2 separate regions of the Homo sapiens genome follow, and region 1 is linked to region 2. Evidence: fine-mapped expression QTL. A gene starts in region 2. The other region holds a variant in brackets. All regions are shown on one strand. Distances are between the middles of the regions. Region 1 holds the start of RPL13A (ribosomal protein L13a). Region 2 holds the start of ALDH16A1 (aldehyde dehydrogenase 16 family member A1).

The links. PIP is the estimated chance that this variant, and not a neighbour inherited with it, causes the effect.
Region 1: its variant is the best candidate, but not a certain one, in a credible set for the expression of ALDH16A1 in whole blood (GTEx, PIP 0.56).

What each region holds. Positions count from the first base shown.
Region 1 is chr19:49,486,312-49,489,215 of GRCh38, forward strand. It overlaps RPL13A (ribosomal protein L13a), which reads left to right and starts at 1,297. Exons shown (of 8, transcript NM_012423.4): 1 at 1,297-1,333. The coding sequence starts at 1,319. RefSeq lists enhancers at 685-1,184, 1,245-1,364, 1,273-1,877. The variant G/T (reference allele first, on the strand shown) is at 1,424.
Region 2 is chr19:49,452,206-49,455,109 of GRCh38, forward strand. It overlaps ALDH16A1 (aldehyde dehydrogenase 16 family member A1), which reads left to right and starts at 1,020. Exons shown (of 17, transcript NM_153329.4): 1 at 1,020-1,216. The coding sequence starts at 1,127. RefSeq lists an enhancer at 1,613-2,572.

The DNA.
Region 1 (2,904 bases), 34 kb after region 2:
ATGTTTCATTCAATACGTGTTTTCTGAGGTCCCCTGGAGCCCCGGGCCGGCGCTGGGCAATGTCAGAGCCTGGATTTGAGTCAGAACCAGCCCAGGTGCCCCAGGTCTCCTTGGCTATGGACGAGAAGACAAGGGATTCAGCGAGCCTGGGTGCAGGATGCCATAGGCTACTATGGAGATAAAACAGAGGCAGTGTGAGGGGCAACTCACCCAGGCAGGGAGAGCAGAGAGGCTTTCCAGAGCCAAATGGCATTGCGATGGTGACAAGCCAGATTTGGAGGGGGTGGGGAGGGCATCCTGGGCAAGGGACCCAGCTGAAGCAAAGGCCGACAGTCCAGAAAGTGAGAAGTTCCTCTGAGGAACGCTCAGTGGATTGGTGCAGCCAGGCAACTAGAAGCCATTCCTTGATCCACTCTTAGAGCCCCTGGGGAAGACCACCTCCATCTGTTTTACAGATGGATAAACTGAGGCCCAGATAAGGCCAAGGGTTTCTCCAGGTCACAGTGAAGTCGACCAGACACAGGAATCCAAATCTCTAAGCCTAGAATGGGCAAGGCTCCGGGGCTCACGCCGGTAATCCCAGCACTTTGGGAGGCCGAAACGGGAGGATCGCTTGAGCCCAGGAGTTCGAGATCAGCCTGGCCAACATGTCAGACTCCCCCCGTTCCCGGGCCACAACAAAATATATATATATATATATATTAGCCAGGCATGGTGGCGCGCCCCTGTAGTCCAAGTTACTCGAGAGGCTGAGGCAGGAGGATCCCTTGAGCCCAGGAAGTGGAGGCTGCGGTGAGCCATGATCGCCCCACAGCACTCTGGTGTGGACAACACAGCGAGACCCTGTCTCACAAAATAAAGTAAGCCCGGACTGAGTGCGGAAAGGCGGGCCTGGCGGGTCTGGTCTCCCCATGCGGGCCACCAGAGGCCCTGCAGCCTTCAGTCGCTTGAAGGGGTAATGGCGCTTCCACTCACAAACATGGCGGACAGAGCGTGTGAACGAGATGAACAGCCCCTCAAAAATATGGCCGCCGAGGCTGGACGGCCGTGCCCCAGCAGCACCGCCTCCGCGCCCCACGTGATCTCTCGCCGGGCACAGCGCTGACCGCGGAGGTCCAACCGGAAGAATGTCCGGATTGGACATTCGGAAGAGGGCCCGCCTTCCCTGGGGAATCTCTGCGCACGCGCAGAACGCTTCGACCAATGAAAACACAGGAAGCCGTCCGCGCAACCGCGTTGCGTCACTTCTGCCGCCCCTGTTTCAAGGGATAAGAAACCCTGCGACAAAACCTCCTCCTTTTCCAAGCGGCTGCCGAAGATGGCGGAGGTGCAGGTATGGGCTCCGCGCGGGCCGGGGCGGCAAGGGGCCGGGTGGGATCCAGGCCGGAATGGGGTCGCACCCTCTCTGTCTTGCATGTTTTGC[G/T]GAGCTTAACATCCATAATGAAGCAAAATGGAAGTCTTTTGGGATAAGGGGAATCTGTAGGAAATGCCGCGGCTCTCTTTAGGCCTAGGGTTGGCTACAATGTGGCATTTCCTTCTCGAGGCGAGGGTGATAGAGCTTCCAGCACAGGACAGGTATTTTGCAACTAGATTTTGCTTACCTTGAACTCGGGTAGTGGGTGGGGGCCCTGGGGTAGAGTCTTGGCCGAATTGGACCCTTGTGTGTCCTCAGCGATGAGGAACACGCGGAAGTGTGGCCGGGCGGTCTCGGGGCAATGAGAAACTGAGTTTTGGCCAAAATGGAAGGTATTTTTATCCCGCTCAGTGCGCGGGCTACTTTGATTTCACGTGGAGGTGTTAATCGGGGTCCCCTGCAGCTCCGGTTCTTTTAATTCTCAATGCCTTTCTGCGGGGGGTCGAGAGCTGTTGGCTGCGGGGCACTCTGGAATGAACTCGTTTTCCGTCGTTTTGGGGATTGGCGATTGTCCTGAGGCGTGTTACTGGAAGTCGAGAGCTGTGATGAATGGTTCCACAAGGATGGGACATCTTTTGGGCCTGACACCTGGGGGCCCTTTCCCTGGCTCCTGGTGTAGCTACTTAAGTATAAAGGAGGGATTGGCCCTGGAAAGGTTTCTTTGTGAGTAGTCTGTTGTTGGGGCGGGTGACATTTCAGAGCCAGGCCGATCTAGGCAAGTTGTGTTCACCAAGCATGTGTCTTTGTGCCTAGCACAGTTCGCAATGTTTTGCGTAGTTCAGTTAACCATATTCCTGAGGCAGTTACTGGTATCCTTGTTTTACAGAGGAGGAAATTAAATTGGAATTGGTGATTTTGGGCCAAGGTCACGACTTCAGGAAGTCTGTCTGGATTTTAGAGTCTTTGTACCAACGCTTACAAAGCATGTGTAACAACCAGTGTGTGCTTCATGCTTTTGCATTAAAACAATGAGGATTTCTACTTTTAGTGTTTTTTCTGAGACGGAGTCTCGCTGTGACACCCAGGCTGGAGTGCAATGGTGCGATCTTGGCTCATTGCAACCTCTGCTTCCCAAGTTCAAGTGATTCTCCTGCCTCAGCTTCCCGAGTACCTGGGACTGCAGGTGCCTGCCACGACGCTTGGCTAATTTTTGTGTTTTTAGTAGAGACAGGGTTTCACCATATTGGCCAGGATGGTCTCGAACTCCTGACCTCAACTGATCTGCCCACCTAGGCCTCTCAAAGTGCTGGGATTACAGGCGTGAGCCCCTGTGCCCGGCCAGGATTTCTACTCCGGAGGAAGCTGAGGTTCGGTGCCTGAGCAGTTTACCGGGGAAAGCAGAGTGCTCTATAGCAGAGCTAGCATGGGCTTTTGACTACTCTGCCTAATCTCATCCCACCTGAAATTCGGTTTTCTTCCAAATTAAATTTGTGGTAGAAACATCCTATACATTAGAAGAGAATTAGATTGTGTTAACATCCTACAATTGA
Region 2 (2,904 bases):
TGCATTTTCCAAACCTTAATCTCAATGTCCATCCTAAAAGGTACCCTTTTTATCTTTGAATTATCACTTCCTGCCAGCTCTAGATCCTAATACGTCCAGATCTAGACCCGCCAGGTCTAGATCTAGATCTAGACCTCTAGTCAATATAATTAGAAAAGCTGCACTTTGAGGCTGGGAGGCCGAGGTAGGAGGATCGCTTGAGCCCAGGAGTTCGAGACCAGCCTGAGCAACATAGCAAGATCCTGTCTCTACCAAAAAAAAAAAAAAAAAAAAAATTAGCCAGGCTTGATGGCACCTGCCTGTAGTCCCAGCTACTGTGCAGGCTGACGCAGGAGTAATGTTTAAACCTGAAAAGTCGAGGCGACAGTAAGCCGTGATCGGACCACTGCACTCCAGCCCTGGGCGACAGAGGGAGACCCTGTCTCAAGAAAATAAAAGGTAAAACAAAACCTGCACTTCCTGCTACTATAAAACAAGGCACTGGGAAGACGCATCAATAGGACGACCCTTTTTTTTTATTACTATTTTTTTTTTAGACACAGTCTCCCTTTGCCACCCAGGCTGGAGTGCAGTGGCGCGATCTCGGCTCACTGAAACGTACACCTTCTGGGTTCAAGTGATTCTCCCGCCTCAGCCTCTTGAGTAGCTGAGATTACAGGCGCGCACCACCACAGCTCGGCTAATGCTTGTATTTTTAGTAGAGACGGGGTTTCACCAAATTGGTCAGGCTGGTCTCGAACTCCCGACCTTAGGTGATCCGCCCGCCTCGGCCTCCCGAAGTGCTGGGATTACAGCCAAGAGCCATCGTGCCCGGCCACGCCGATCCTCATAAATCCGGAGCCCTCCTAACTATTCGCAAAGTACCCACATCGCCGTCTCCCCTTCCTCCCCGTTTTAAGCAGTGCGCATGCTCCTAAATACGCTTCCCCGTGGGGGACGTAGGCGGGGCCATCGGGTCCTAAGGAAAAAGTGTGGGCGTGGCTGCTCTCTGTATCTTGTAGCCCCACCCCATTCCCATTAGCCCCGCCCCTTTGGGCTGGAACCGGAGGTGTCGCTCTTCGGACCTCAAGGTTCCCCTTAACACAGAGCGCCCCGCAGTCTTCGCGGAAAGCGTTCGGGGTAGGCGATGGCTGCGACGCGTGCAGGGCCCCGCGCCCGCGAGATCTTCACCTCGCTGGAGTACGGACCGGTGCCGGAGAGCCACGCATGCGCACTGGTGAGAGTCTGCCCGGCCGGCGCTGCTCGCTGCGTTCCCCAGGCCTGGGCGCCCGGTTTTTCGCGGGGAGTCCCGTCATCCACTGCGGTAGCTCAGCCGCTCCGCCTCTCTTAGTCCCCGTGATTCCCGCCGCCCAATAGGATCGCGCCCTGTAGGACGCTCCCTTGAGCCTTGGCGGTGGCAGCCTTTTAGTCTGTTCCGGTCTTCCCCACTGGTTCTCTTGCCCCTTGATCCTGAACTCCTCGTAGTGTTTCCGCGGTTTTCCTGAACTCCTCTAGACGCTCTCGTGATTCCTCAGGGTCCCCTCAGAACCTGACGCCACCCACCAGACCCCTTAGGATTCCTGTGAGGCTCCAGTGACCCACAACCCCCATTGTCTTTCCACGACTCTTCAAAACATCCTATGGCTTCCATGGGCCTCCAGAGCACCCCAGACCTCCTGAGGGACTCCCTTCATCCCTTTGATTACCCAGAGACCTTCAGAACTTCCATGGAGCCCCCGTGATCCCATAGGACCCCTCAATACTCGTGGGGTTCATGTGACCTCATCGGAACTCTCAGGAGCCTAGAATACATCAGGACTTCCGGTTTGGGTTGGGTTTTTTTTTTGTTTTTTTTTTTGAGCCAGGGTCTCACTCTGTCGCCCAAACTGAAGTGCACTGGCGCTATCACACCACTGCAGCCTCAACCTCCTGGGCTCAAGCCATCCTCTCACCTCAGCCCCCCAAGTAACTGGGACCAGAGACGCGCGCCACCACTCTCAGCTAATATTTGTACTTTTTCTAGAGACAAGGTTTCAGCATGTTGGCCAGGCTGGTCTCGAACTCCTGGCCTCAAGTGATCCACCCACCTCGACTTCCCAAAGTGCTGGGATTACAGGCGTGAGCTACTGCACCCAGCCACATCAGGACTTCCTGTAATTACTTATGGCCCCTCACAATACCCTCACGGGGCTCCTATGATCTCTCTAGCTCTCAGAATGTCCCATAGGGTTCCCATGATTGTTCAGGAACCCCTGAAGTCCTCGTGAGGGTCCCATGATCCCCTGGGGGTCCTCAGAACCTCCCTAGGACTCCCATGACCCCTCAGAGGCCCCCAGAACCCTCGTGGGGTTCCTGCAAATGAGTAGGGCACCTCAAACTTTCTGTCGTTTCCCCAGGCACTCTCAGAATTCCTTCACGGGGCTCTCATGATCCCCCAGGGTCCCCCAGCACCCAGGCGAAAGGAGCTTAGGCTTCTTTGAGGGGGAGGGCAGGAGGCCAGAGCAATGATCCAAGTGGAAGGAACTGGATCAGAACCCTGGCACAGCCTAGAACTTGGGGAGGCCAAGACGGGCAGATCGCCTGAGCTCAGGAATTCGAGACCAGCCTGGGCAACATAGTGAAACCTCGTCTCTACTAAAATACAAAACATTGGGCCAGGCGTGGTGGCTCAGACTTGTAATCCCAGCACTTTGGGAGTCCTAGGTGGGCGGATCACCTGAGGTCAGGAGTTCGAGACCAGCCTGGCCAACATGGTGAAACCCCATCTCTACTAAAATACAAAAATTACCTGAGCGTGGTGGTGTTTGCCTGTAATCCTAGCTACTTGGGAGGCTGAGGTGGGAGAATTGCTTGAATCCAGGAGGCAGAGGTTGCAGTAAGCTGAGATTGCACCACTGCACTCCAGCCTGGGCAACGGAGCAAGAC